2 separate regions of the Homo sapiens genome follow, and region 2 is reported to be linked to region 1. The links are microRNA targets in miRTarBase. Many come from high-throughput screens and were not tested one by one. Region 1 holds a microRNA gene; the other region holds the end of a gene's coding sequence.

Region 1 (3,388 bases):
ACCCTCCACATCCTGTGTAAAAAATCATTCTTTCCACCCCTCCTCCAGCCTATCAAAGTTGACACTTAAAAAGCCACCACAACCCACCCTTGTCAACAGGAAACCCATTCACATCTCCATCAGCCACACAATCTCCACATAAAGATTCTTCAAAAAATAATAACAATAGCCATGCAAAGTATATGATATATATCATAAATAATTGTACTTAGATTATATATGAAAATGATACTCTTTTTGATATGCTAGGTAAATAAAATACATTATTTAAACTCATTGACTTCTTCTCTTTGTATTTATAACATGATGACTAGACAGTGGGATTCCCATGAGGCTCACATCACATTGTGATTGAACAAGGCTGGTCTGCAGGGCTTCAGGTTACAGGGGCTGTGGAGTGACCTGGTGCAGGAAGCCCCGTCTCCATCCATAGGACATCAGTGTGAACCCAGGGAGAGGCGCTGGTATAAGAGAGATGAGAACACAGGTGTGAACCACCTGCTTGTGCAGGGGACTGAGCCTTCACTTTGAGCCAAATAAGTTTTCTTTCCCAAGTTCGATCCTGAACAAGAGGGCTTTCTGGACTTCTTTTTGTTTTCAGGTTTGTGCCCCTTCAGGTTTGGGGCTGTCTGGAGTCCCAGCCAGGGGACAGTGAGGAAATCCAGCAGTCTCACACTGACTCTGTTGTATTTCATCTGCTGGGGCCATCCCAAACTGCTGCGTACCATTTCCTTTCCTGGTGCTCAAATAGCTGCTCCATGCACTTGTCATGGTTTTATAGCTCAATCTAGATGGGAAGACAGGATAGTGTATGTTACAATATTTAAATAGAACCTGAATCCCTTAATAGTTATTTTAATATGGAACATTAAAAGAGTTGCATCATAGGCAATGGGGAAAGATGAAGAAAGATTAAACGCATTTGGAGGAAAAACTAAAAATGTCTTTATTGAATGTCTGTGTGTCTTCAGTGTCGAAGGGTTGAGAGAGGTCAGCTTTAGGTTGTCCTGAGGATGTGCTCAGATGGGGGAAAGTAAGAAAGCCGGAAACGTGCATCTCTGTGACCTGACACATAAATCACAGTAAAATGGAAGTAAATCTTTCAATAAACCTTTCAAGATAACATCACTCTGGTGCACATAGAAAGGCCTGTTAGCAAACTTTCCCTTTTCCCTGCTGGCTCATATCCCCATGGATCACCTGTATGCAGAACGGACTCTGTGGTCTCCATTTATCAGGCTGAGAACCAGAGGCTGGGAAGGACAAGTCACCTGCTCATGAGTGGGAGGGGCAGGATTGGGAGCAGCGGACTCAGGCTCAGGACTGTGGCCCTGGTTGGTGCTCCTTGTTCCCTTCACAGGGTCCCACCCACATGTGCCCGTGTGGATGTGGGTGCACTGCCTGGGGTGGCTGATGTGCTCCAGGGATTTGATGGTGCAGATGCTTCAGGACAAAGCATGGGAGTGGGGATGGGACGAGGCTGCCGCTGGGCAGACCAGGGACCAACGCCACCCAGCAGAGGCTTCCAGTGGGGTTGGGCAGCCCCATTTCCTGAGAATAGAGAGAACCTGGCAATGAGTGCCAGAAAGAGGTTACTTCGAGGTGTGCCCAGGCCTGGAGGGTCACAGAGACACAGGCACCACACAGCAGAGACACTGAGGGCCAAGAGCTCACTCAGGTGAGGGGCTTCAGCAGATTTTTCTCTCCTGAGCAAATCACGTGCAAAGAAATCAACTTCCTGTCATCAGAATAGACAATCAGGGACTTTAGTCTCCTTGGCTGAGCCCCGCTGTCAAGGGAAGCAGAAGTCTCTAAGCCCAGGCCCAAGTGAGGGTGGGGTGAGAAGAGGAGCTCAGGATGCAGATTTGCATGGAGGTCCCGCCCTTCTCTGAGGCAGAGGGGATAAGACAGGGCTGGGGGCAGGCCCAGTGCTGGGGTCTCAGGAGGCAGCGCTCTCAGGACGTCACCACCATGGCCTGGGCTCTGCTCCTCCTCACCCTCCTCACTCAGGGCACAGGTGATGCCTCCAGGGAAGGGGCCACAGGGACCTCTGGGCTGATCCTTGGTCTCCTGCTCCTCAGGCTCACCTGGGCCCAGCACTGACTCACTAGACTGTGTTTCTCCCTTTCCAGGGTCCTGGGCCCAGTCTGCCCTGACTCAGCCTCCCTCCGCGTCCGGGTCTCCTGGACAGTCAGTCACCATCTCCTGCACTGGAACCAGCAGTGACGTTGGTGGTTATAACTATGTCTCCTGGTACCAACAGCACCCAGGCAAAGCCCCCAAACTCATGATTTATGAGGTCAGTAAGCGGCCCTCAGGGGTCCCTGATCGCTTCTCTGGCTCCAAGTCTGGCAACACGGCCTCCCTGACCGTCTCTGGGCTCCAGGCTGAGGATGAGGCTGATTATTACTGCAGCTCATATGCAGGCAGCAACAATTTCCACAGTGTTTTAAGTCAATGAGGAAGTAAGATCAAAACCTGCCCTGGGCTCTCAGGCCCCCTTCTTGCTCTGCAGATGCTTCCTCACGCTGTATAAGGGTTTCCTGCAGGATGGCCTTGACAATTCTCCTCTCTCAGCTCCTCTCCTTTCCCACCATGAGGTCTAAAAGGAAACCTGCTCGTGATTTCTCGTTCAGGACTGTGGCAACTTCCTTTTGCTTGTGTGCTCTGGTCCCTTAACGTGCAACTATTCCTAGCTCTTCAATGCAGGGACGTAGGGACAAGGAGTTTACTGCTTGGTGCAGTCCCTCCTGTTTTCAGGAACATCCTCATTCTAAATGCATCCCCCATCTGTCACACTATGCAGATCAATCTGGACAGAAGCCATCAGGGGGATGGCTTCCAGTTTCCAGGAATTGCATCTTGTTCCACTCTGTGTCCACCACGCTCTAATGAAGATGGCCCTCCTAGCTTAAAGTGACCACTTTAAGAAGACTTGAAGATGTTTTTGAGGGATTAAGAACAAAGAGGATGCTGCTGTTTTTCTTTTTATTGCTCCTGCTCTTTGCCGAAATTCCTCAGGTTGCTGAGCTGGGGAGATTTTGAGTGACAGGCTCAGTGCTCTCGCAGAATTCTCCTCCCCTCACATCGCTGAGGCCCTGTCCTGGAAACTCCTCACAAGTGGACGGTCTTCCCATAGGATGGGGGATTCCAAAATGGCTCCACAGGAAAGAGTTAACCTGAGTCCACCTCCCTTCCTCATGGACATCGAGCATTTCTAATTTTCATGGCTGTCAATACTTTTGTACCTGGAATCCCTAATAATCTAATGGTGAGAATTGATTTAGAACACATTCGGACATTAGCTGGGTCCAATATTTAAATTTTCTGAGCCAGTTGTTAAATACAGCTATTATCATATATAGTTTAGGCTCCTTAAACTTCGATT
Region 2 (3,000 bases), not on the chromosome of region 1:
GAACCCAGGAGGTGGAGGTTGTAGTGAGCCAAGATCGTGCCACTGCACCCGAGCCTGGGAAAGAGTGAAAGTGTGCATCAAAAAAAAAAAAAAAAGATAGCTGCTGTTTTGAGAAATTTATAATCTGTTCAACAAACCCAAGGCTAAGTTATGCTGTACTACATAGGAAGTGTAGGAAGTGTACTTATTTTATGTGTTCATTAGATTCACTGAAAAACTGATTGTGAATGCTTGTAACCCTTCCTTATATGATGTTGTATTTTATATTCAGGTTCATGTTAATCTGCTTCTTATAGAAGCTAGGATGCAAGCAGAACTCCTTTATGCTCTGAGAGCCATTACCCGCTATATGACCTGATGCCTTTCCTTCATTAAAGATGATTCTGGAATGATCAGCAGATATAGTCTACAAGGGGGAAGGTACTAAGCCCCAGGACCAATGGTAGACAAAATAATTCAGAAATCCATTGTGCCATGATTCCTTTAGTTTCTGCTATTTTTCTGTGGAAAACCACTGCTGGCACAAGCAGTGACTGTTTGGCAGCTTCAAGTTTAGAGCTGTGAAGACAGGCTGCCATTCACAGTATTTTGCTTTTTGACAGTACAAGATGCTGTGTAACTGTTTTAATACAGCAAATAGTAACTCTCCAAATCCTGTTGCTTTTATGTTAAATAAGATAACAAGAATTGGAGCATGCAAAGAATGGGACTTGGATAATGACTTAAGCTTTATATGTAAAGAATTTTAGAAGATCTTGGTGCTGCTATTCCTGCTGGAGGAATGAATAGATGGCTGTTTCAGTTAAGCTATTAGTAATAAAAGTGAACATTGCTACTATCTGAGCCTACATACATAACTTGTGTGATTTCAAATTAAACTTGCATTATGTGTTAATTTTCTTGCATCTAAAAAAGCATAGAATTCCTACTCACACAGCTCAGCAACAACCATTTTGATGGTAACAGTTAATTTCTTTCATTAGTTTTTTAAATTCAGGGTTCTGGATATTAAATTAAAATGGCATTCTTAAAGATTTTCTTCAAAAAGCAATCCTAAATGAAAGTGTGTAAATTATAAGAAGCTGGCGATCTTTTGATATGCTGTTTCACAGGATCCTGACACTGGAGGGCAGCTGTCTTGTGCATTACTTGTGTTTCCAGCACCAAAGTTGTGGGACATGTTGCTGTAGACTGCTGCGCAGTCCTGGGTGCATTCAGTCTCTCTGCCTCTGCCTGCCTCCTGGTCCCCACTTTAAAGGCTGTGCAGCTCCTTAAATAATAAAGCTGGAAAATATTTTTAGTCGGGTTATCAAATTTGATTTACAAAAACGCTAACTTTGTTTGAAATGCAAACAGGTTTGAAAATATGTATTAAGTACTTTGTATTCTGGAAGCGTGAATTGCTTTTGAAGTCTGTCAGTATTACTGGTATTTTTAAATAAAGAAGAATTTTTCTCCAATTTTATTTGCTGTCTCAATCTCTTAAAAAATCATGACTTCACTATTAGTAATAATTTTGAGTTTCTATCTACTTTCATAAGCCAAGTACATTCACACTTAAATGGCAAAACAACACTTGAAGCCATTTTGAAACATACAAAGAGGAGTGGACTTTCTTTAGAATCTTATCTGAGACCATTTTTATCTTGGAAATGACTGGTATGGCCCTATGCCTGCTCTCTTTTCAACTGTTTTAGAGTTCCAATAGAATTTTAAGAATTACTAAAAAGAAGGATTCATTAGGGAGAGACTACAGAACAAAAAATGACACTCATCAGACAAGTAGAAATAGCTCTAAGTTTAACTGAAGCTGTTGTGATGATAACTCTGTTAGTTACTCCTCAAAACATTTATTGAGCTCAATCTAGTGCCTGCCTACAAATGTATGGGGTAGTGTGGAAGTAGGGGTTGGGAAGGATCAATTTTGAACAGAGGTGGTACCTGTCCTCAAGGATATTTACTCTCATGAGAAGACAAGACTATAACCTTAGCTAGGAATAGAGTATTATTATCTTCAATATGTTTTATATTTAAAGAAACTTACTTATAAGTGCATTACTCATTGAATATGCATCATGCCTTTGTCCTCTTCTGCCTGCTGCTGAGTTCTCTCACCAGAGCAATACAATTGAACCCAAGAAGATAGTTAAAATTTTACTTATCCCATTTCTGCTCTTTGTTCCTCCTCTTGAAAATACAAAATTTCTAGTAGAGATTCTAATCAGCAGTAGAGTGATCACAAAACAAGATCAACTAGAATGCATTTAGTCCACTGGAACTTATAATCACTTAGAAATTGAAATCAAAATTTTAATGAGTTAAAAAATATGTTTATACCTAAAGTAATAAAAGTGCATGTGATACAAAGTTAATGTTTCAATGCCTTCCATTTAGCAGGTGCTTCCTGTTGGAGTGTTTTCTCAAAACTAAACACACAGGATTTCTAATGTTACTATATAATCTTTGAAACCAGTAGTTTCCAAAATAATTAGGGAAGGTACATTACACTGGGGATATCAAAACCTTCCCCAACCAGAGGAAAATTTTCTTCTAAAATAATCATGAGAAGATTTCTGGTTGAGGGTCCCAGGATTCAAGAGTTAAAATCTTGAGTTGTTTTGGCCGTATTTGGGAAAATTTTTTATTAGGCCAAACTTTATCATCTCTAAGAATGAGATTGATTTTGATACAGACCACCAGGAGATAAGTAGATAAGTAAAACTTGTTGGATAAGCACTTTTTATCAATATACTCTGAAATTTTATTAGCATATTCATATATGTGAATATCATACATGAATCAGAAATGTTACTAGCATATTTGTATATGTGAATATCATATATGAATCATCATACTAGTTTTTTGCTAACACTGGTAGATGGGAGTAATGTCAGCAAGATGATGGACTTGGGAACTCCACGTCCTCATTCTCCCAGAGACGCTGAGTTAACAATATATGGGCCAGAATATCTTTGTGAGAACTCTAGAAACCAATTGGGA

What was found. Region 1 holds the annotated microRNA hsa-miR-650 (AGGAGGCAGCGCUCUCAGGAC, at 1,942-1,962, shown strand). A microRNA usually pairs through its seed, bases 2 to 8, with sites in the 3' UTR of a target mRNA and lowers its output. Matches are read on the target gene's strand: a 7mer-m8 pairs with bases 2 to 8, a 7mer-A1 pairs with bases 2 to 7 and ends in A, and an 8mer does both.
Region 2: the mRNA of SESN1 is a reported target of hsa-miR-650. Seed matches in the 3' UTR shown: 7mer-m8 at 1,235-1,241.

Annotation. Positions count from the first base shown.
Region 1 is chr22:22,820,850-22,824,237 of GRCh38, forward strand. It overlaps MIR650 (microRNA 650), which reads left to right and starts at 1,927; the gene lies at 1,927-2,022. It overlaps LOC105372948 (a long non-coding RNA gene), which reads right to left. Exons shown (of 4, transcript XR_938047.2): 4 at 132-787. It also overlaps IGL and IGLV2-8.
Region 2 is chr6:108,984,902-108,987,901 of GRCh38, reverse strand. SESN1 (sestrin 1) reads left to right here. Exons shown (of 10, transcript NM_014454.3): 10 at 272-3,000. The coding sequence ends at 358. It also overlaps a transcript of ARMC2 not described here. Among named protein-coding and RNA genes, the nearest start is that of ARMC2-AS1, 62 kb to the right of the region's middle.